3 linked regions of the Homo sapiens genome follow. The protein of the gene in region 1 purifies or fractionates together with the protein of each later gene. This does not show direct contact. Each region holds a gene or a part of one and is shown on either strand. Other genes may lie near its edges. The genes, in order: SMOC1, UBR2 and NAF1.

Region 1 (8,003 bases):
TATCTCCCAAAGGACTCATCTCCCAAGGCCATCACATGGAGCTGGTAGACTTTCAACATATGAATTTCAGGGAGACATATTTAGTCCATAAGAGCCATTAATATTTTCGAGTACCAGGGAGCTGGGTCTGCAGAACTAGAGGTAAACCACAGCTTGAATGCTGTGGCCTCCTTTTGTTTGGCAACTCAAGGACGACTCATGAGGATGGCCTCTACTTCTAATTGTGTCCCAGAATTGTATCCTTTCTTAGTAACATAAACGTTGACTTTTAGCTGTACACATGTGGTCACCTCCAATTAGGATTACATTTTTTAAAGCCCTTTTTTGCTGAATGTGGTCATATGACCAAGTTCTAGCCAATGAGACAAAATGAAACGTGACTTCTGGGAGGTGTCCTTAAAAAGAGGAGCATGCTCTTCTTTCCTCTTTTTCCTTCCTGTTGGCTGGAAAATAGATATGATGGCTGGGGCTTAAGCAATCATCTTGTACCACCAGGTAGAGCTGCTTATTATGACAGAGAAATAATAGAAGGAGCCTGGCTTGGAGGAAGCTGCCCGAAACTTTCAATGGAGTTGTGTACCAAAGAGAGAGCTAAATTTCTAAATTGTTTGTCACTCGAATTATTTTTGTCATGTGTATTTAAAGCTAAAGGAGTGACTTTGGTAAGGTTAAATGTCTGCGGGTAAACTTCATTTGCACACTGGGACTAATAATACTTACCTTAGCCTAATGCTAAGGTTACAGCAAGTTAGTCATAAATCTAAAAGCAGAACCTAGGAATCTTAATGTCTCAAGCTTCTAAGCTCACTAGTGTTTTTGACAAAAGTCTTGGACCTTAGATACAGTGTACCTCTTTCCATTGGTAGCTATTGTAACAAATGAAGCAAATATAAATCAGGATATATTTATGTTATAGAAGCACTCTGCTCCAGAGCCTCATTCAGGATCTACCTCCATCATGAGACCTTCCTGCCCATTAGGCCTACAGTGGGTCATCTCACTCTGAGTTCCTACAACACACTGCAGGCTTTACTCTTTTTTTTTTGAGACGGAGTCTCACTCTGTCGCCCAGGCTGGAGTGCAGTGGCGCAATCTCGGCTCACTGCCAGCTCCGCCTCCCAGGTTCACGCCATTCTCCTGCCTCAGCCTCCCCAGTAGCTGGGACTACAGGCGCCCGCCACCACACCTGGCTAATTTTTTGTATTTTTAGTAGAGATGGGGTTTCACCGTGTTCGCCAGGATGGTCTCCATCTCCTGACCTTGTGATCTGCCCTCCTCGGCCTCCCAAAGTGCTGGGATTACAGGCATGAACCACCGTGCCTGGCCAGCTTTACTCTTAAATGTGGTCCCCAGGTATCTCTCTGGTCTGTGTCTTAAATTAGATGGTAACCTCTCAGAGGGCTGGGTGTGCATCCAAAGATCCATCATAATAATGAACATTGTGCAAGGCGTAGAAGGAGGTGCATCAAAGTGCTTACTAAAAATGGATGAAAAGATTCTATTCTGAAGATGAGATGAGGAAAGAATCCTCTGGATTATATAGAAACACAGATATATATATATATATTTCTTTTTTTCTAGATGGAGTCTCGCTCTGTTGCCCAGGCTGGAGGGCAGTGGTATGATCTTGACTCACTGCAACCTCCATCTCCCAAGCAATTCTCCTGCATCAGCCTCCCGAGTAGCTGGGATTACAGGCATACACCACTGCACCCGGCTAATTTTTCTATTTTTAGTGGAGATGAGGTTTTGCCATGTTGGCCAGTCTGGTCTCAAACTCCTGGCCTCAAGTGATCTGCCCACATCGGACTGTCAAAGTGCTGGGATTACAGGGGTGAGCCACCGCGCCTGGCCAGAAACACAGATATATTTGAAACTGGCATTTCTAGTTAGTACTAAATATTTGAGGCCTTCAGACCTCAATCTGTGATATAAAGTATTAATTTTCATCTACTGAAATATCCCATTGCAAATAGAAGTCCCACAAGACAAGGAGTATGACTGAAACTGGACAAACCAGATGCCAAGATAGTCAGATTATTTTTGGACCATGAGTCTGGCCTCCAGGGAAAGAAGAAACTTGTCAATTTTACTTTTTTTGCTTGGATCAGAAGATTAAGCCTGGCAGAGAGATACTGTTTGGGACTAGTGGTTCTCTGGAATTCCTAACCTTCTCTGGGCTTGGGAGGAGTTGGGAGAAGAAAATGCATCATCTGAATGATGGCCATGGTTACAACAGGCCTCATATGCCAACCAGAGGGAAAGAAAATACTTGCTGAGCAGAGTAACTGGAAAGCAGTTGCTCATAGTTTGAACTAAACTACATGATTGAAATCCAGAATAATGTAGATTTTTGGACCAGTGAACACTTGGAAATAAGCTTTCTGGCTGGAAAGCAGCATTTGATGTTAGGGATGGAAAGGGCTATTGCAATGCTTTTTCCCTGGGCACTTTGTGCTGCCAGATACTCAGGGCCATCTGAAGCATATTTACTTACTCCAGCAGATTTCTCAATAGTTCCAGCAACAGGAAGGAGTTGACCAGCTTGATAGGTGAATGTAGCCAGGTGGTAGAGTCAGGAAAAGCCTGTCACACTGCTGAGCCCGATGGTAACAGTTCCATCCTGTTGAGCCCCTGGAGGGTGAACACTTAGGTGGACACATGGATATTGATGTCAGTGCTGCACAGGGCACGGTACTGGACAAGTGTCACAAGTCCAGCTGGGCAAACTCCAGGATGCCAGGTCACAAGGGCTGTTTCCAGGAAGGGCTGACCCCTGATGTTTACATCCTTTTCCTCTGAAGCTCAGTGGAGCTCACCAGTCTCAGTTCACCTTGTAGGCCACTGAAGAAATTCCCAATTAGCACAGAGGAACGTCCAACCCTATGGGATTTGAGACTGGAGATTGCAGCCATCACATGATGGAAGCAGAATTAGACTCCAAAAACCTTGCCTTGAGTCTCGGCGTCTCGGCTCTGTCATTTGCCAGCCAAATGAGGCCAGGCAAGTCACAATCTCATGGAGTATTCACTTATCTACCTGTAAAGTAGGAATGTCTGACCTATTTCAGAAGATTGTTCTGAGGATAAAATGAGATGAGGCATTTGTCCTGTCCTCTTCAAATGCCATATTGTGATACTTTTCACTTAATTATTTTAAGGGCTTTAAAGACTCCATCTCCTTTACTTTTGACAACATCTCATGGCAGGGGATACTATTTTTATCCCCATTTTACAGAGAGAAAAACGGGACCCTGGATGAGTCAAGTGACTTCTTCAAGCTTATACCACTAGGTGGCAGACTCAGGATTTGAACCCTGCTGTACAGCTCCAGAGTCTGTCTGACCAAAGCACTCATTCCCAGTGGAGGAAAAGATAGACCATTCTTTTAGAAGTGCGCTTCATTTTTGTTTGGAGAACCACAAGTACTTTGTTATTGTTCCAGCATCCAGTCTGAGCTTTCTTGTCAGAGGGCAATGGGGAGAGGGGAAGTCGTTTAAGCAGGGAATGGTGAGTTCCGGTTTGCTGCTTAAAAGGATCACTGGCTTCTAAATAGCGAATAGACACACTGGCTGCCGTGTGGAGGTTGGATGGGGCCAGTGTGGAGAGAGGGCAAAACTGAATTCAGGAGTCAGGTGCGAAGCTGTTTCATGGAATCCAGGAGAGAAGCCCTGAGGGAGCAGAGCTAATCTTAGGACCTCTCAGACCAGATAGGGAGGGGGAGTGTGGCACTGATGCTTACAATCAAATTATAGAAAAGAATCCCTCCCTGCGAAGTAGCCCATACTGATGGAAGTAAGCACTAAAGGTTGTTCTCCACATAAGGAGATCGCTCTGGGTTTCATTTTGCGCCCCCCCGCCCCCTTCCCTGTGATTTCCTGGAGATGTCAGTCTCACTGAAGGCAGCTGAGCACCTTGCTCTGTTGAGGAGCCGGTGTGATGCAGCTGTGACCATTCCCAAGATGGCCTTCCGGGGATGGCCCTGGGCAGAGCCCCCCAACATCTGACTGAAGCTCCGCTGAGCTGTCCTCTCCAAGAGGGTCGGGCACCCGGGAGAGATCTCCTCTCCTTGTTCTACCCCATCTCTGGGATCTCTGCATCCTCAGACTGCCGCCTCCTCATCTATACTTTTCCTCCTTGTCTCCCATCAGGGGACCAGGGCCTCTCTGCCCGCCTCTTCCAGAGCTGCTGGGCTATAGAGAGGCTGCCCCTTGCCCTCCAGTTCAGAGGGGGAAGCTAGGATGCCTGAGTTCCAATCCTGGATCATACGGACCATAGGGCTGGGAGATGTGTGTGTGTGTGTGTGTGTGTGTGTGTGTGTGTGTGTGTGTGTGTGTGTGTGTAGGGGGTTACCGTACCCAAGAGGCCCTCCCCAGCGGCCAATGCCCAGCACACGCTTCACCTTGTCCCTTGCGACTTCTCCCGGGGCAGCCGCTGTGAGACTCAGGATGTCACCTCCCAGGGAGAGTCTTTGAAAGAAGTGGATGCTCCCATTCCCCACTCCAACGCCACAGCCCACCCTGTGCGGGTCATCCAGCGACTTCCCAGTTACTCTTCCCAGATGCAGCAGGGAGGCAGATCTCTCGGCGCCTTCGTGTCACAGCATTCTCATCTGATAAATGGGGCTAGGAGTATTTTCCCTGCCTACTTCACCAGGATGTTGGGACAATCACGAGCTTGAGCTAAGAAATATACATGCTTAAGGCATTATTATTAGCCAGGTGAGCCTTCTGGTGGGTGCCGGCTGCTGGGGCTCTCTCAGGCTTCCTCGGGCAGGAGTGCCGGGAGAAAGTTACTCTTTATCCCACTCTCTCCCGGGGCCTACTCCCGCGGAGCTCCTCGGCGGGGGGTTGACCACGAGTGGCTCCTCTTGCCCCTCTCCCATTGGCTTTCACCTGCCAGAGGGTCGGCTTCAACAGGCCTCTTGGCCCGTCAATCAGGCCCGCCGTGCTCCGCCCCGCCCCTCCCGGGGGTTTATAACGGGAATTCCCATGGCCCGGGCTCAGGCGTCCAACCTGCTGCCGCCTGGGCCCCGCCGAGCGGAGCTAGCGCCGCGCGCAGAGCACACGCTCGCGCTCCAGCTCCCCTCCTGCGCGGTTCATGACTGTGTCCCCTGACCGCAGCCTCTGCGAGCCCCCGCCGCAGGACCACGGCCCGCTCCCCGCCGCCGCGAGGGCCCCGAGCGAAGGAAGGAAGGGAGGCGCGCTGTGCGCCCCGCGGAGCCCGCGAACCCCGCTCGCTGCCGGCTGCCCAGCCTGGCTGGCACCATGCTGCCCGCGCGCTGCGCCCGCCTGCTCACGCCCCACTTGCTGCTGGTGTTGGTGCAGCTGTCCCCTGCTCGCGGCCACCGCACCACAGGCCCCAGGGTAAGTGCGCCCCCAGCTTTGCGCCCACCTGCGGAGGGAGGGGAGGTTGCTTCCCCCCTCATCCCTGAGGGAAGGAGGAGGGGGAAGAGAGATGTCAGAGACCTGTTGTCCTCTGTCTACTACCAGGTCCCCTGCGGGCTTGGTGAAGTTGCTGAAATATTTTTTTTCTCCCATTGGAGCCACCACCACTCTCCCTTTCTTGACCCACCATCCCTCCCCTGTCCCCGAACTGTCACTGGTGGGTTTTCTTTCCCAATCTCTTCTCTCCTGCATTTTGCTCAAGACCCTCAGAGGTGCCTCCTGCGTCGGAGAGAAGCTCGCTCTCCGCTCATGCAGGGCTTCCCTGTGGTCTCACGCTGGCGCCCGGTCCAGCGCGCTGGAGTTGTTGGCAGGCGGCGGGGGTTGGGACGGGGGCGGGTGCAGCTCTGCCTGGAGAGTTTTAGGTTACCCGCGAGCCACACAAGGACCTTGTGTTGTTGTTTTAAAAAGCGATCACTGCTCGTAAAACCCACAGCAGATAATTTTAATGTCACCTCCTGCCGGGCAGGCACTGGAAGAGGGTCAGAGGTGGGGTACTGTAAAGAGGTGGGAGGGGAGAGTTGCGCAATGTTCAGGGGTCTCTCCCCCTGGGTTCAGTGCTGGGAGGTTGAATTACTCGTTGAACCTTGGTCTGATTGGAGTTTCTGAACGACATGAAACCTGCCAATTCTGTGCACAGGACAGATTGTCCAGGGCATTGTAAAATCTCCTGGAACCGACAGTATTGTGTTCATTTCTGGTCTAGATTATCCCCGCAACACCCCCCACCAATTGGTCTAATAAAGAATTTCACTGCCTTGAAACATGTACTATTAAACGACCTAGTGGTTCTTTTGACCAAACTTAATCCAGGCAATCTCTGGCCAAGCATCAGTTTATGTCAGGGCAATTGACTCTTAACTGGCAGCCTGAGAGTCCATGTGAAAGTAGCTAGGATCTTTGTGAAAACAAGGTTGGCTCAACCAACTCGTGCTTTCTTTCTTGAACATCCTTGGGCCTGGCCCTTTACCACCTGTTCAGATTGCAGGTTGTTTATTCATAGCTTTTACTATATGAGAATCATCTTTATAGCTGTCGTGTGGAGAAAAAGTCTTGCAATGCTTGACAAGTCTTAATGACTGCCCAGATGCTGGGTTGATTACATCCAAGCCCAGGTATCACTGTGAGATCAGATTTGCAGCCATTTAGGAAAGAAAAGTGTTTGTCCCCGTGTTGGGCCAGCCCTTGCTTTTATGACCAGATGTGCAACAGCAGCAGTTAAAGTGTGGCAGATTAGATCCAGGGCGTGTCATAAATCCTCGACAGCAGGCATTCCCAAAGCTGGGGCAAGTAAGGGCTCCAGGAGTGACTTTTATGGATGCAGATGAGGATGCCTTTTAAATGAAGCTGCTTGGTTTGATATTAGGACTCAGAGCTCTTAAACTCTGAGGTCAGGCGAGCCATGCGTTCCCTCCAATAATTAGGAACAGTCAAGACAGAGATGCAGACCAGAGCACCCCGACTGAAATCTGGATGGCCGCCCACAGGAGGGTCGAAAGGAGAGAGGCCCTGAGACAAATGGTGGGGGGCTCGTTTGTTTGCTGCTGGGCTTGTCTAGAGTCTCAAGCCATATGGCTCTCCTTCCTGGCCTCCTGGAATCAGAGGAAGCAACCTTTAGGGGAAAGCTAGGGACTTGAGGGGAAATCAGGCACCGTGGTTAGGTTCCTTCCAGCTCCTCTAGTTTATTAATTTGATAGAAGTGATGGAACGTAAGCAGGAATTGTAAATAGGCTGGTGTATGTCCAAGCTGCTTCACACTCTCTCTCTCCTTCTTTCTTTTTTTCCCTCTTTCTCTCTCTCACTCAAATACATACATGCACAAACACACACACACATGTGCACACACATCTTGGTGTGTTTAGAAAGTACCAAGGAGAAGGTGCTGTCTCGAGCATGTGGTTACCTGGTTGTGTTTATAGATAACAATAAGAGCTACCACTTATGAACATCTGGGCTGGGCACTTTACATGATCTCTTACTCGAACGAGAACAAGAAGTTGGGTCTTTTAAAAGCCATTTTACAGATGACAAAGTGAGACTCAGGGTGGCCAATCGACTTGCCTGAGCTTCCAGTTTATATGGATTGAAAAGTTGTGTGCTCTCCCCACCACCAGGCAGCTATAGTGAGTGTTCATCCGAGTGATGCTGTTTCTGTTAAAGAAAGAGATGGCTCGATGAGAAATACAGAACCCGGATACATCAGGGGAGTCTGCAGAGAAATTGTTAATATTTTTTTGGTGTCTGTATCACTTAAGGCAAATGACTGAATTTCAACCTATCCCCAAAGACTCCAGTTCTTTTCTATGGCTTATTGGGGGCCTCAAAAGTGTAGCTCTGGTTGTTGAGAGCGGCGTCATCCGAGGAGCAGAAACATCTGGCTTGTTGCATTATTCCCTGTGGGCGCTCCTAAGTCTCTTCTGTTAATCTTTTGAGTGACAGAGGCTTAAGGATTGGCATCTTTTCCAGCTGGCTTTCTAGGAAACCAAGAGCATGCCCTTTCAGTTTAACTTTATCTGGCTCACTAATTGAGCTCCCCCGAGGCCTAGACCCCAGTCCTCGC
Region 2 (8,302 bases), on another chromosome or scaffold:
GGCGTGATCTTGACTCACGGCAACCTCCACCTCCCAGGTTCAAGCAATTCTGCTGCCTCAGCTTCCCAAGTAGCTGGGATTCAGGTGCCTGCCACCACGCCCAGCTAATTTTTGTATTTTTAGTAGAGCAGGTTTTCACCATGTTGGACAGACTGCTCTTAAACTCCTGACCTCAGGCTATCTGCCCGCCTCAGCCTCCCAAAGTGCTGAGATTACAGGCATGAGCTACCGTGCCTGGCCTGCATCATAATGTATTTAACCTTATTGATGAACTCAGTGTCTCTTTCCAATGCTTCAGGTGATTTAAATAATACTGAATTATGGCCAAGAGCCGTGGCTCACACCTGTGATCCCAGCACTTTGGGAGGCCAATGAGGGCGGATGACTTGAGGTCAGGAGTTCCAGACCAGCTTGGCCAACATGGTGAAGCCCTGTCTCTACTGAAAAAAAAAAAACAAAAATTAGTTAATTAGTTGGGTGTGGTGGCAGGTGGCTGTAATCCCAGCTACTCAGGAGGCTGAGACAGAAGAATCACTTGAACCTGGGAAGTGGAGGTTGGAGTGAGCTGAGATCATGCCACCCCACTCCAGCCTGTATGACAGAATGAGACTCTCTATTTAAAAAAAAAAAAAAAAAAAGAAAGAAAAAAAATTGAGTGAAATTCCTTGGTGACAGAGTGAAACTTTGTCTCAAAAACAAACAAATAAACAAACAAAAACTCCTTTTCCCTAGCCTCCTGTACTTCTTTCTTGGATATAAAATCTTTGCTTATCTCCTCCAGTGTTTTTAATAACATTTGTAAAAGTTCTTTCCAACTTTCTGACTTGTGTCTGTTTCTTCCTTCGTCATTTTTGTTTTAGTCTCTCTTCCATAGGCTTTGCTCAAGTATCTGTACACAACCGCCTGTCTTCATATTTAAGAATGACTTACTAAAAATATGATTAGAAGTTTTATGCATGGGTGGGGTGAACTGACTATACCATTTTGTTGGGGTCTTATCCTCTACAGAATTTTTTTTTTTTTTTTGAGATGGAGTTTCACTCTTGTTACCCAGGCTGGAGTGTAGTGGCACAATCTCGGCTCACTGCAACCTCCACCTCCTGGATTCAAGCGACTCTCATGCTTCAATCTCCCGAGTAGCTGGGATTACAGGTGCCCACCACCATGCCCAGCTTTTTTTGTATTTTTAGTAGAGACAGGGTTTCATCATGTTGGCCAGGCTGGTCTTGAACTCTTGACCTCAGGTGATCCACCCGCCTCGGCCTCCCAAAGTGCTGGGATTACAGGCATGACCTCTACAGATTTTTTTGGTGGTGAGATAATCTACCCCTCTGGAGAAGACCCTCCCAAACTCTTGCCTGGGAGGTATAAGCCTGGCCACTAAGGTTCTCAGAGCCAAATGGGGAAATAAGCTAGGTTATCCCTGTTCACTATGTAGACTTTGATTCATCTCTCTTGAATGCAGTGCGGTATCCCTGTCCTCAGCTGTGTCTGGTGTCTCCCAGTCAAAAGGCCCTCAAGTGTAGTCACTCTAGAGGATAAAGCTCTAGTCTTCTTCCAGAGTAGGAAGTGAGATCTAACTTCTTGCTATACAGACTTTCAAACAATAAGCTTGCTTTTAGCATTGTCTTCACCCACTTTCAGAGTTACATGGTGCCTCAAATTTTTAAGTCTTTCAGGGTACTGCATATTAATTAGCTTGACTCAGTGTCTCTACTGCTAGCGGAGGTTTCAGCATTCTCTTAGTTACTTCTCAACCACTTGCTTTCCACCAAATTTTGGTGCTGTCATCCTCTCTTCTTTTCTTTTTTTCTCCCTTTACTGTCATGAGGTATTCAATCTGCCACATTTAACTGGAAGTTGGGGCTTAGCTCTTAATGCCCCCATGGGAACAGAAAACAAGACCCTGGGTCAAAGAAACATTGGAATTGCAACTGAGATCCTCTACATAAAGCCAGGGCTTTCAAAGGAATGTCGTATCAGTGAAAGGGTAGACTAGACAAAAAACCCACCAACTGGCATACAAAAATGACAAAGAAGCTCTTTACCTTGACTCTGAGTAGGAAAAAGAACTCTCCTTAAAAATTCATAGACAGGCCGGGCACTGTGGTTCACACCTGTAATCCCAGCACTTTGGGAGGCTGAGGTGGGTGGAACACCTGAGGTCAGGAGTTTGAGACCAGCCTGACCAACATGGTGAAACCCTGTCTCTACTAAAAATACAAAAATTAGTCAGGCATGATGGTACGTGCCTATAATCCCAGCTACTTAGAAGGTAACTATGCTCACCACTATACCACCAACGCATCTAATCCCAGCTACCTAGGAGGCTGAGGTAGGAGAATCGCTTGAATCCGGGAGGCAGAGGTTGCAGTGAGTCAAGATTGCACCATTGCACTCCAGCCTGGACAACAAAGTGAGACTCTGTCTCAAAAAAACAAAAATTATAGACAGAGAAATGGCACACAACTGAATTAATACTATTAGGGAATCTTCAAGCCTAGAAACTGACGTACAATTGGTCCTAGATACAGGATACTCCTAGAGTGCCTGGTCCTGAGTATACGATGTTTTCTAGGTTGTCTGGCCTTGCAGAAGCAAATGAAAAAGTATTTTGAAAGTATTAATACATGGAGAGTCCCACTGCTAATGCTACTAATGCTAAGTGAAGATGATCTCCAAATTCATAATTATGACACACAAGGGAAACAATTTTTTTTTGAGTCAGGCTCTCATTCTTTCACCCAGGTTAGAGTTCAGTGATACAGTCATAGCTCACTACAGGCTTGAACTCCTAGGCTCAAGTGATCTTTCCTGTCTCAGCCTCCCAAAGTAGCTAGGACTACAGACATGGGCCACCATGTTCGGCTAATTTTTAAATTTTTTTGTAGAGATGGGGTCTTGCTATGTTGCCCAGGCTGGTCTCAAACTCCTGGCCTCAAGTTATCCTCCAATCTTGGCCTCCCAAAGTTTTGGTATTACAGGTGTGAGCCACAATGCTCGGCCTGAAACAAATAATGTTAGGAAGCAAATAATGTTAAGAACAGAAATTGCCTTTACAGTCTATTAACGACTTAAATTCTATGTTAGGACAGCTCAAGAGATGTTGTTTTTGCTTCTAGGCTGGGACAATCCCAGTTTTCTTCCAAGTTGACTCTGTCCTGAGTGGATCAGTGTAAGGAAGTTGGGCAAAAAAAGAAAAATACATAGAAGAATATTTCAAGATATCTCATTATAAATATCTGTACAGATATGTGCATACTTTTTTCTGGACAGACTCATAAGACAGTGTCAAAAATGATTTTCTTTGGGGAGAGGGACTTGGGGTAAGAGGAATAGGAAGTTTTCAATTTTCCTTTTTTAAAACATTCCTTTCGAGTTTGAATTTCTGATGTTTTATATGTATATATATATATAACTTTTAAAAAGTGATAAGAAGGCTTACTTGTATTGTGAGGTTACAGGGATACAGGCAGTTTCTTATTTCCTTTTTTAAAAAACTGGTTAATATCATAGTATTGGTTTAAAAAAAATCCCAAAACAACATAAACATAAACATGTCCTAAACCTGGTCTGGCTCAGAACTTTTCCCCCCTATATGTAATTTACAACCTACTTCTGGGAATAAATTAACACACTTGACAAAAGGTATAAACAATTTTCTGACAAACTCTAGAGACTGAAGACTTCTAAGAAGCCCAGTCACCCAGCTGTCAGTCAAGAGTCTAATTACCTTTAACTAAACATAGTTTTCTTTGATAGCTAGTCTAACAATGTTTACCTATTTCTTTTTTTTTTTTTTCCTTCTTTTTTGATACAGGGTCTCAGCTGTGTCACGCAGGCTGGAGTGCAGTGGGCTGATCACAGCTCACGATGGCCTCAACTGCCTGGGCTCAAGCAATCCTCCTGCCTCAGCTTCCCGAGTAGCTGGGACTACAGGCGTGCCACCACACCTGGCTAATTTTTTGATTTTTATCAAGAGGGTCTCGCTATGTTGTCCAAACTGGTCTCAAACTCCTGGGCTCAAGTAGTCTGCCCCCCTCGGCCTCCCAAAGTGCTGGAATTACAGGCATGAGCCACCAAGCTTGGTCTGATTATCTGTAGAAATTAAATGTCTCTATCAAGAGGAAATCTTTTAATTGGCCTAATAGACTCTTTTTCCTTTGCAGCAAGATTTGTGATAAAGTTTATAAGTGGTCATCACTAAAGTTTTTGAAAAATTTTTTAAAACATGTTTTAAACCTTCAAAAAAGTGGGTAATGTTCACCTCCATTACTCGTATAAAAGATATGGGTTCGATGGATGACAGGACATAGAACCACAGGAATAGAATGTAATTCATTCATTCCTTTGACAAGTATTTGAGTGCCTACCCTATGCCAGACTGGCAAGTCCTTGAGGGTCTACCATGTGCCAGGCAGTGTTCTTGAAGCTGGGGATACAAAAATGAACAAACGAGATTCGGAGAATAAAACTACAGTTCCCACAGTATCTTTCTCTTTGGCTTTTTTCCAGGGGGCGCTGCTTTCCGCGACTGTCTTCCCATGATTCTCGTTGGGCAGAAAAGCCCCGCCCGCTTATCTGCCATTTAAGCCAGCGCCCCTTGAGAATGGACTACAACTCCCACAATGCATTCGAGGGGCACCGTGTTAGGGCGCCACCTTTTTCCCGGCTGTGCTGTACCTACAGCACCCAGAACTACAGTACCCAGAAAGCTCCGCTTCCCCTCCTGGGTGTTATTGCCCCTTTCCTGGTGCAGGACGCGGTAGTGGCCAGCGAGAGTGTCAGGCCTGGGGTTTTCTGTGTCCTTCCCTGGGTCAGGGACGAGCCAGTGACTTGACTCTTGGGCGCTAAGCTTGGGAGGGAGCGCAGGAGGCCGCTGTCCTTCCTTTCCGGTTCACGTCACCCTTCTCTCCCTCTGTTGCTCCACCTGCAGCCACTTGGACGGCTCCGGGACTGATTGCCTGGGGCAGGGGTGGCAGTCGAGGCCGCCGGGGCCGAGGTGAGGCTGCAGCTCTCCGGGCGGCGGTAGCGCTGGGGAGGAGGAGGAGAGAAGATGGCGTCGGAGCTAGAGCCAGAGGTGCAGGCCATCGACCGGAGCTTGCTGGAATGTTCGGCCGAGGAGATTGCGGGGGTGAGTGCCGGAACCCGGGCGGGTGCGTCTGCCCCTCGCAGGCCGCGCCTGTGGGGAGGAACCGACTCCTGGACGTCCTGGAGCAGCCCGACCCAGACTTGGGGAAACAGCTGTGCCGGCCCTCGCCTTGTGGGGTAATAGCCCGGGGAGGCCACCGATCCTGCCCCTCTCTTTCCATTTTCAACAGCTGCCAGAGCTGCGCTGTGCACTAACTACGTTTACTTTCCCTTTCTGCCCAGGAGAACCCACGGCTCTTCCATCATACCTCCTTTCCCCCAGCCTCCCATTAAGTCTCCCAACACATGGGCCTTTGCCCTTTATATCAGCTCTTGGAAGAGGAGAAGAGACGCTTCTTGTGTTTTTGGTATAATCGCCCTAGTTTATCTAGTTAATTGCTTTTCCTGAGACAAGCGAAGCCGTGTGCTCCTCCGACTAAACATGCCACCCTAACCGAGCCCCTCTTTTGTTTTTGGGACTGCCCCAGGCACCAAGAAGGCAAACGACACTACCCTTCGTTATCCGTTTCAGTGCTATCTTTTTTTTTTGCACCGGTTTGATTAGTTGACAACGTTGATGCATGTGTGGAAAGTTTACTGAGTATGAGAAAGTAGTCGTGGAGTCTGGGAAATTTTAAAAATATTTTTTCTAGGAGTTAGGGGTAATTGGATGGAGAACAAATGTTATATAACGTTGATAGAGCAGCTTTCAACAAATACTGTATAAGCTAAACGTGAGAACTGGTCACAGTGTAGTAGGAGCAGTTATATTCCAAACGTAAAACCGTTCAAACGCACTATTGCATTAAAACTGTAATATGAATATGCTAGTGTAAATAGCAGAGTTGTAGGAACACCCATTAGAAGAGATTGCCGAGAATGATTATGAATGGACCAAGACAGCTTGGGCCCCACCTCTAAGACCTCCAATTAAAAAGGCTGCTAGGAAGGGAGTGACCCGTGAATAAAAGTCAGCAATCTGAATGCTACGAACAAAATTTGGGATTGGGGGCACTGTGGAGCTGTTGGTCAGTGAGTAGTTATTTTGCGTGAATTGGTGAGGACATTAAGTCCGGGTAGAAAGAAATGTCAGGAGTAGAGGTGAAGACTTTAAAGAAATACGTTGTTAAATGCTGAATCTTTGCTTGTTTGGGTGTGTTTTGTTGTTGTTTGTTTTTGTTTTTGAGACGGAGTTTCGCTTTCGATGCCCAGGCTGGAGTGCAGTGGCGCGATCTCAGCTCACCGCAACCTCAGTCTCCCGGGTTCAAGCGATTCTGCTGCCTCAGCCCCTCGAGTAGCTGGGATTACAGGCATGCACCACCACGCCCGGCTAATTTTGTATTTTTAGTAGAGTTGGGGTTTCTCCATGTTGGTCAGGGTGGTCTCAAACTCCCGACCTCAGGTGATCCACCTGTTTGGGCCTCCCAAAGTGCTGGGATTACAGGCGTGAGCCACTGCGCCCTGCCTTGGTGTGTTTTTTTAAACCTACTTACTTGTTTAGCCTAGGTCTGTTTTCATTTACTTTCTACTTAATGTTGTACAACTCAAGGAATTTCTGCCTTTCGTTTATCGGAGATTTGAAAAAAGAAAATGAAAGTAGTGTTACAAGTAAACTGTTAAATAATAATGACAGCTGTTTGCTCTCCATGCCTCTTCTAATTGATATCTGTTGCTTACCTCAAAGTACTGTTTTGATTTTTTTTCTCTCACTGAATTTTGTGTCTTGGTCCAGTGATACAGGGTACAAATTCCGTTATCCCATTCTAAAAGTGCAAACTATCAAGTGATTAGAGGTTCTCCAATTTGTAGAGGCTCCTGAGGAAACTGGTTATAAAAGTAGTGCGGGAGGCCAGTGCTCCTAGTTCTTGTTCAGTGAAATTCTCAAGCAGATGCAGTAAGGAAAAATCAAGGAAAATGCAACAAAAAATTATTAATTTGGACTTCATTTGAGTTTGTGAAGATCATAATCTGAGCTACATTTTACCCTGTTTACTTTTTTTGTTTGTTTTTTTGAGACAGTCTTGCTCTGTCGCCAGGCTGGAGTGCAATGGCGCAATCTTGGCTTACTGCAACCTCCGCCTCCGGGGTTCAAGTGATTCTCCTGCCTCAGCCTCCCGAATTACAGCTGGGATTACAGGCGTACGCCACCACGCCTGACTAATTTTTGTATTTTTAGTAGACACAGGGTTTCACCACATTGGCCAGGATGGTCTCGAACTCCTGACCTCAGGTTATCCGTCCGCCTTGGCCTCCCAAAGTCCTGGGATTACAGGCGTGAGCCACCGCACACAGCCTACCCTGTTTACTTTTAAATGCCTTTCTGAACAATAAGTTTTTTTTTTTCTTTTTTTGGTAAGAGATGGGGTCTTGCACTGTTGCCCAGACTAGAGTATAGTGACATTATCATAGCTCACTGCAGCCTTGACCTCCTAGGCTCAAGAGATCCTCCTACCTCAAAAACCAATATTAAAATATAAAATTCCTTCAACTATATAACCTTAATCTTGCCTTACTTTGTGAGGACTTTACTGTCTGTATTAAGTTAAAACACCTAACATTTAAAACTGTTTTTTTCAGCTTAGGCTTCAGCTTTTTTATCACACATTTAAATTAATAAAGTTTTTTCTTAGGTTGAAAGCACATTTTAGGGAAGAGAAACAAGTAGAGAAAACAGTGATTGTAGGCTTTAGACCTCTGTCATTGGTAATTTGTTAGGATCACTTCCATTTAAAAATCACCTAATGAGCACTAGTGTCAACCTTTCCACATTTCATTTACACACCGCTTTTCTTATTCCTGTTATAAGGAGGAAGAACTTTTTGTGATCCCATCCATTCCAGCTAGTATGCCTCACAAAGAAAAGTATCTAAGCTGACTCTTTAATATTTGTAAGTTTAGGATATTACAGTGGCCCTCTCTTCTCATTCTTCTCTTTTCTTGTTAGAATTGACTCCATAAGTATGACTTTCCCAACACTTCTTGGCTCTGTTTACTTTCTATACTACATATGGTTATAGTATGTTCCAGTGAGTGATTACGGTTTTAAAAGTAAACATGCCGGGTGTGGTGGCTCTTGCCTGTAATCCCAGCACTTTGGGAGGCCAAGGAGGGCAGATCACAAGGTCAAGAGATAGAGACCATCCTGGCCAACATGGTGAAACCCTGTCTCTAC
Region 3 (7,866 bases), on another chromosome or scaffold:
TTTCTCAGTATTACAGTTTTTTTTTTGTTTTTTTTTTTTTTAACAAATATAGACATGGGGGTCTCAGTGTGTTGCCCAGGCTGGTCTCAAGCTCTTGGCCTCAAGTGATTCTCCAGCCCTCAAGCAAGCTTCTGCCTTGGCTCCCCAAAGTGCTGGGATTACAGGCATGAGCCCCTTGCCCAGCCAGTATTACAGATTTTTGATACTTACCGATTTAACCTTGGCCATTTTAGATGTTTAAAGCAATCGTAAATCATGATCTGTGTTTCTAATTTTACTGAGGTATGAATCAGGTTTATGCCCACTTGGAGGGTTCTATACAGGTATGAATCACTTAACCAGTGAATGATCCTTGCTTAGTATCTGAATTGAAATGGAATTATGTTTTCTAATTAATGTTATGTATTTATGTGATTTCAGTTAAGGCTCTGAATATTCACTTAATGTTCTGAATTAAGTTTTAGAGTATCTATAGCATCTTATTACTGGAATTACATGTTTTAAACGTGTTTAGAGATTCATAAACATCTCAAATCATATTTCTTTTAAAATCCAGATATTCTTTTTTTCTTTTTTTGGGTAGGGGATGGAGTTTTGCTCTTTCTGCCCAGGCTGCAATGCAGTGGCACGGTCTCAGCTCACCGCAAACTCTGCCTCCGGGTTCAAGCAATTCTCCTGCCTCAGCCTCCTGAGTAGCTGAGATTACAGGCGCATGCCACCACGCCCAGCTAATTTTGTATTTTTATTAGAGACGGGGTTTCACAATGTTGTCCAGGCTAGTCTTGAACTCCTGACCTCCAGTAATCCACCCCTCTCTGCCTCTCAAAGTGCTGAGATTTCAGGCGTGAGCCACCGCACCTGGCCAAAATCCAGATATTCTAATGAATCCCTCTTGTTTCGGACCTAAGCATTGAAGTTACCAATTACAACAATGCGAGTTATTTGTAAAATTGGTTTGACTAGGTTAATTGCAAAATTACATCTCACCTAGTTCATGGTGTTTGTTTTTTCCAGGTAGCTTGAACTGGATCATTAAGTATCTTGGGATTTAATTTTGTAATATTTGTTGGTGAAACTTTGTAGTCTAGAATTATTGCCTGGTATTGATCATAGATTAAAATTAGAAATTTGTGAGGTTTAAACTTAAAAAGAGAAAAAGGAGAAACATTGCGTGATGTGAAAATAGAAAGCTTGCATAAAGGAAAATAAGAGAAATTATGTGCTATGAAATGTTGGGCTGCATAAAGGACCTAAAAATTACCTACGGTTGTATCATGTTCATCTTCATAGCCATTTTTAATATGCCACCGTATACTTTATGGTTGAATAAATGTATTTAATGAATGGAAATTTGAATTAATTTGCATATAAGAAACATGAATTTTTCTCTGATTTTAGGAGTGATAGCAAAATACTACCAGAGTAATCTCTCTGAAATAAACTATTCCCAATTAAAATCCTTACTTCCTCCCTCCTGCTCTTAAGATGATGTTCAATTATTTAAAATGGCACAATAAGGTTCTTTGTAAGCTTCTCCAATTTTATTTTTTCTGGTTTTGCCATGTAAGAAGCAGCAGCTTTCACTTTGCCTTTCAGAACCATTTTTCTTTTTTGTATATACTGTTCTATCATGCCTCTGTGTGTATTGTTCACATTTTCTGAAAATTCCCTTTATTTTCATAGCTAACTCATTCAGGTATTTCTGTTGGGTTATCCATACCAAGAAGTCTATCTTTTCCTTTTTTCTCTTTATCCAGCACTATAATAACATAGCATTAAGTCGTAGCACTTGTTCATTGTACATTTAATCTGTTTTCTCAGAAAAAGGAGTCTTCTATCTGATCTCCATACTTTCTAGTGTCTTTCAGATACCAGATTTAACCTGAGTTTTAAAATCTTATCGTATTAAGATCAGTAATAAGAAATTATGCATTGGAAGGCATACAATTAGTTCATGTTTTCAAATTAGATTTCAGAATCTGAAGTGTATGGATTCCTGGTTCATGGAGGATTTGATCTAGAATGTATTCCAGTGAAGCCATACTGAAAATTACATACAAAGACTTTCATATACATTTTATTTCTTCTTTTTAAATGTGTATCCATCCATATATGGTGGGCCTGCTTTCATATATTTTTTGTATGAAACATAATAGACGTTTTCTGGCATTAATAGAATAATAAATTAATAGAATAATTAATAGAATAATAAAATGCCTGAACTATAGATGACAGTCATAATATATATAGCTCATAATCTTGGTTTTCTTGGTGGACTATAACAATGAATCCTAATAATTAGTTAATGTGAGTTTTACCACCTTTAATTTTTAAATAATTTCCTCTTAGGAGTTGGATCATTCATGTATCTGCTTATAAAAGCCTTTGCCATGTTGATCAGGCTGGCCTCAAACTAAAAATACAAAAATTAGTTGGGCATGGTGGCGTGCGCCTGTAATCCCAGCTACTCAGGAGGCTAAGGCAGGAGAATCGCTTGAACTTGGGAGGCAGAGGTTGCAGTGAGCTGAGATTGCACCACTGCACACACACACACAAAAAAGCTTTTGCCTATGGTTTTATCTAAATAGCTTCCCCATGATTTGTATACCCTTATTTTGCCTTATTTATTTATAACTCTTGCTCTGTACCTAAAATTATATTTAAAAAATAAGATGGTAAACCTGTAAAGAATGAACCTGTGAAATGTTTAGAACAGTGCTTGGGTGTGTATTTTGAATGAATGAATTATGGAACATTGTCTTCTGTTTTTTATTGGCTCTGATAATATATATAATTTGCTTAGTCCTTGATACTCTTACCTTTGGCACCCTTTTGCATCTGATACTATGATGAATTTTAAGTCTAAACTGGAAGTCAGACTCATATCTGAAGGCTGATTACTGGCCTGTGTTAATTAAAGTCATTAAGCATTTATCAAAAAATGCTTTATTTTTATACCATGTCTAATTCAGATATAGAAAATATTAAGTATCAAAAAGACAACTTTTTTTAGAGTCATTGATGCATAATAGGCTTATTTTCTTCACCTCCAAGTATGTACTATTGAATTGGCAAATTCATGTAACATAAACCTATTATATACTTTTCTCTGCAAGGCCTTAGATTTTAGTGATGATGAAAAAGAGAAGGAAGCCAAACAGAGGAAAAAATCTCAGATTCAAGGCCGGAAAAAACTCAAATCTGAATTTAATGAGCCTGGTGAGTGAATACAATATATATACTCGTTCTTTATCTTCATTTACATCTATATAAGTTTATCAATAATAAAACTGAAGGAAACATCTGGGTTCTCTCTGTTTACCTCCTAGCATCCTGCTAACATTTAGAGCCATTACATAGCAGGAGGTGTGGTAGTTTTATGAGCTTAAGCAGTAAAAATGGCTTCCTGGGGTAACAGAGAGACTAAACCTTGTTACTCGTGCTTGTCAGCACTTTTTTCTTAAGATACCTATTTGCTTCCATTTTTAGGATTTTATGATCAAGTACTTGATGAACCCCTAAATCACAGTGTCTTATTTTTAAACATGCATTCCCTTTACCTTTTTTGAAAATTAAACTTTCTGAGATAACCATAGATTCACATACAGTTGTAAAAATAATAGGAGAGGTGCTGTATGCCCTTTATTCAGTTTCCCCCAGTTGCAACATCTTGCATAACTATATATGGAACACTGTCCCAGCCAGGATATTGACAGTTATACAATGAAGCTATACAACATTTCCATCACCAGAGAGCTACCCAGTTGCCTCTTTATAGTCACAGCCACGTCCTTACCTCTCAGCCCCTCCTTCACTCATGGCAACCATTAATGTGTTCTCCATTTTCATATATTTTGTCATATCCAGAAAGTTATATAAGTGAAGTTATACACTGTAGTACGATTAGGGAAAGGCTTTTGCCACTGAGCGTAGTATCTGTGCATCCACCCACATTATTGCATGTATCAATAATAGTTTGTTCCTCTTCATTACAGAGTAACATTTCATGGCATGAATTTACCAGATTACCTAACCATTCATCCATTGAAGGACATCTAGGTTGTTTCCATTTTGGGGTTATTAGGAATAAAGCAGCTATAAATATTTATATACAGGTTTTTTGTGAAAAGAGGTTTTCATTTTTCTGGAATAAATGCCCAAGAGTATAATTGCTTGGTTGTATAATAGTTGCATTACATGTTTAGTTTCCTAAGAAACTACCATACTGTTCTTCAGCATGGCTATACCATTTTACATTTTTATCAGCGATGTATGAGTGACAATTTCTTTGCATTTTCTCCAGCATTTGGTGTTATCACTGTTTTTAATTTTGGCCATTCTGCTAGGTTTGTAGTGCTAATATAATTGTGGTTTTAATTTGCATTTTCCTAATGGCTAATGGCATTGAACATCTTTCCATGTGTTCATTTACTATCGGTATCTTCAGTGATATGTCAGTTCATTATCTTTTGCCAACTTTTAAATTGTATTGCTGGATTTTTACTGTCGAGTTACGAGAATTTAAAAATGTATATTTTAGATACTAGCTTTCTGTCAAATATTTGGTTCGTTCATGATTTGTTCTAGTCTGTAGTCTTTTCCTTCTTTTAAGATGGCCTTTTGCAATACTAAAGTTTTTAGTTTTGAGGAAAACTAATTTATCAATTTTGTTTATGGAATCTGAGAACTTCCTGCTTAGCTTTAGATCCTAATGATTTTCTTCTATTTTTTCCCTAAAAGTTTTGTAGTCTTCTGTTTTAAATTGTACACTTGTGATTCATTTTGAGTTAAATTTTGTATAGAATGTGAGGTTAGTCTTAAAATTGCGTGGAGTGATAACTCCTACTTTATTTCTCTTTTTCAAAATTATAATCGGTATTCTAGGTCCTTTACCTTTCAGTATAAATTTTAGAATCTTCTCTACATCAACAAATGTCTTGCTGAGGTTTTTTTGTTTTTGTTTTTGTTTTTGTCTGTTTTTTGAGATATTCTTGCTCTGTTGCCCAGGCTAGAATGCAGTGGTACAATCATAGCTCACTGTAACCTTGAACTTCTGAGCTTTTTTCTTTCATTCTCCTGATAGTATCTTTCGTGGAGCAGAAATTGTTAAGTTTAATGAAATTCAGCATATTGATTATTTCTTTCATGGGTCATGCCTTTGATGTCCTATCTAAGAAGTCATTATCTAAAAAGTCATTATTGGCCGAGCGCAGTGGCCCAATGCCTGTAATCCCAGCACTTTGGGAGGCCGAGGCAGGCAGATCAGGAAGTCAGGAGTTCAAGACCAGCCTGGTCAACATGGTGAAACCCCATCTCTACTAAAAATACAAAAATTAGCTGGGCATGGTGGCGCATTCCTACTTGGGAGGCTGAGGCAGGAGAATTGCGTCAGCTGGGACCCGGGCAGCGGAGGTTGCAGTGAGCTGAGATCGTGCCACTGCACTCCAGCCAGGGCTACAGAGCGAGACTCCGTCTCTAAAAAAAGAGTCATTATCAACCCAAGGTTGTCTAAATTTTCTTCTATGTTATCTTTTAGGAATTTTGTAATTCTGCATTTTACATTGAGGTCTGTGGTCCATTTTGAATTAATTCTTGTGAACGGTGTAAGGTTATTGTCTAGATTTATTCTTTTTGCATGTGGATGTCCAGGTGTTCCAGCCCCATTTGTTGAAAACACTACTTATGCTCTGTTGTATTGCTTTTGCTCCTTCGTTAAATATCCGTTTATTATGTTTATGTGGGTCTATTTTTGTATGTTTATGTGGGTCTATTTTTGTACCTTCTATTTTGTCCCATTGATTTATTTGTGTGTCCTTTCACCAGTACCACACTGCTGTGATTACTTAAACTTTATAATACGTCTTGAAGTTGGGTAGTTTCCGTCCTCCAGCTTTGTTCTTCTCCTTCAATATTGTTCCATTGAGTTTTTAATTTTGGTTATTGTAATGTTCAGTTCTAAAATTGCAATTTGTTCTTTATTTTATATCTTCTTTTTTTCCTAAAACTTTGTAATTTTAATTTTTTAGAATGTTCATAATATCTTGTTGAAGCATTTTTATGACTGCTTTAATACCTTTCATAATTCTAACATCTTTGTGACACCCTTGCTTGATTTATTTTTTTCATTGAATTTGAAGTCTTCCTGGTTCTTTTTGTGATGAGCAATTTTCTTTTATTGCAACCTGGGTATATTGAGTATTATATTACAAGACCATGGATCTTATGTAAATCTTCTGATTTAGCTGGGTTTGTTGTGATTGTTTCTTTGTCTTTTTAAAAATGCTACTCTGGCAGCGAAAGGAACAGGGTAGATTGAAGTCTAGGTATTCCTCTTAGCCTCTGTTGACACCTTTGGCCAAGGGGTGCCTTGTTACTGCTGGATGAGGGTAGAAGTTCTGACATCCCACGAGGTCTTATGCCTGGTAGGGACAGGAGTACTTTGTCACTCCTCCCCATATGGTATGCACTGACACCAGTGGAGGATGGCCTTGTTATCACTGGTTGGGGACAAAAATCCTAACTCTACTCCATCTTCTCTGACATTGCCCCAGTGTAAAAGAGGGAAGAACACTGGGTTGCCGCCAGTGGAGGTGGAAGTTCAGGTTCCCCATGTGATGTTCATTGTTTGCAGGGAGGCTTGTTACTGGCACCCTGTTCAGCCTGTTCCTGATGCTACTGTGGTGGAAGGGTTGGAGTACCTCATTACTGCCTGTCAAGGATAGAAGTCTAGGATCTGTACTCAGCCTTTGAGAGTGTGTAGGGATGGTGCCACATTTTCTTCTGTGGTGTTTGGCTAGAGTAGAATGGTTATCATCTAAGTGTTTTCTGACTTGCTGGGTTCTCTTTCTTTGGCATTAAGTTTTGTCTTTTCAGTTCATTTCAAATTTACCATTTTATGTCTTACACTTTTTTAACTGCCACAAGATATACTGGATAATAAAAATCATAATTGAAATTTCAAACAATGCTTTTTGATATATTAAACTTATTTTCCTTTTTATGTTTTCCCTCCCCTCACTCAAAGGTGAAGATTTTACTGAAGTACATCAGAATTGGAATGCTCATAGCTCTGCTTCAGAGCATGCAAAAGGATATCGTAACAGAGAATTCACACGAGGATTTTCCAGGGCCAGATACCCTCGATCTTGCCATGGCAGGCCTCCACCTCAGCATTTCTATAACTCAGAACATATGGTATCTCAGGAGACTTCAGGATTTCCTTCTCAGAGACAAAATAATCCCATTATGCCACAATACCCCTTTCCTCTTCCAGTGTTTGACATGCATAATTTTCCCCTCCGCCCTCCACCCCCACCACCACCCCCACCTGTAAACATGGGTTGGGCTACACCAAACATGGCTGCTCATCCATTACTTAACTTACCATACTCCCTACCCCCACCCCCTCCCCCTCCACCACTGCCTCCTCCACCCTCTTCTGGAGATAGTAATTCTCATTTTGGACCTTACTATTAGGTGACTATGCATTTCCAGAGAAATGTGGACTTTTCATATTATGTGGTAAGGATTTTTTTTTTTCAAGAGTGATTATGGAGCTAGATTTTTAAAAACACTGTAAAATACTAAATGATTCCTTCTGTTGTAAGTTGATATATATTTGTAACCTTTGTGAAATTGTATTCATATGAAAATGTCAGCTCAAATTCTTGGGAGAACATTAAATTATGTAATATTTAATTAAAATTTTGAATTCATGCCTTCTCCCTCCCAACCCCACCCAGTTAAACTATATATATATATATATAGTAATGGATATGGGACAAGTTTCATCATGGGTAAAATATATGGAGCACATTGATTTTCTTGCTATAATCTGAATATAAGATGAAGTCCTTTTGAGAGTCT

What was found.
Region 2: the proteins of SMOC1 (region 1) and UBR2 purify together in Homo sapiens (affinity purification with mass spectrometry; 2 studies listed by BioGRID and IntAct, with this or other methods). This does not show direct contact.
Region 3: the proteins of SMOC1 (region 1) and NAF1 purify together in Homo sapiens (affinity purification with mass spectrometry; 2 studies listed by BioGRID and IntAct, with this or other methods). This does not show direct contact.

Annotation. Positions count from the first base shown.
Region 1 is NC_000014.9:69,874,413-69,882,415, forward strand, and holds the start of SMOC1 (SPARC-related modular calcium-binding protein 1 isoform 1 precursor), read left to right. Parts: upstream 1-5,003; 5' UTR 5,004-5,266; coding exon 5,267-5,365; intron 5,366-8,003. UniProt on the Homo sapiens protein: Plays essential roles in both eye and limb development. Probable regulator of osteoblast differentiation.
Region 2 is NC_000006.12:42,559,264-42,567,565, forward strand, and holds the start of UBR2 (E3 ubiquitin-protein ligase UBR2), read left to right. Parts: upstream 1-4,765; 5' UTR 4,766-5,056; coding exon 5,057-5,134; coding exon of another isoform or gene 5,135-5,268; intron 5,269-8,302. UniProt on the Homo sapiens protein: E3 ubiquitin-protein ligase which is a component of the N-end rule pathway.
Region 3 is NC_000004.12:163,128,507-163,136,372, reverse strand, and holds the end of NAF1 (H/ACA ribonucleoprotein complex non-core subunit NAF1), read left to right. Parts: intron 1-3,116; coding exon 3,117-3,219; intron 3,220-7,024; coding exon 7,025-7,476; 3' UTR 7,477-7,704; downstream 7,705-7,866. UniProt on the Homo sapiens protein: RNA-binding protein required for the maturation of box H/ACA snoRNPs complex and ribosome biogenesis.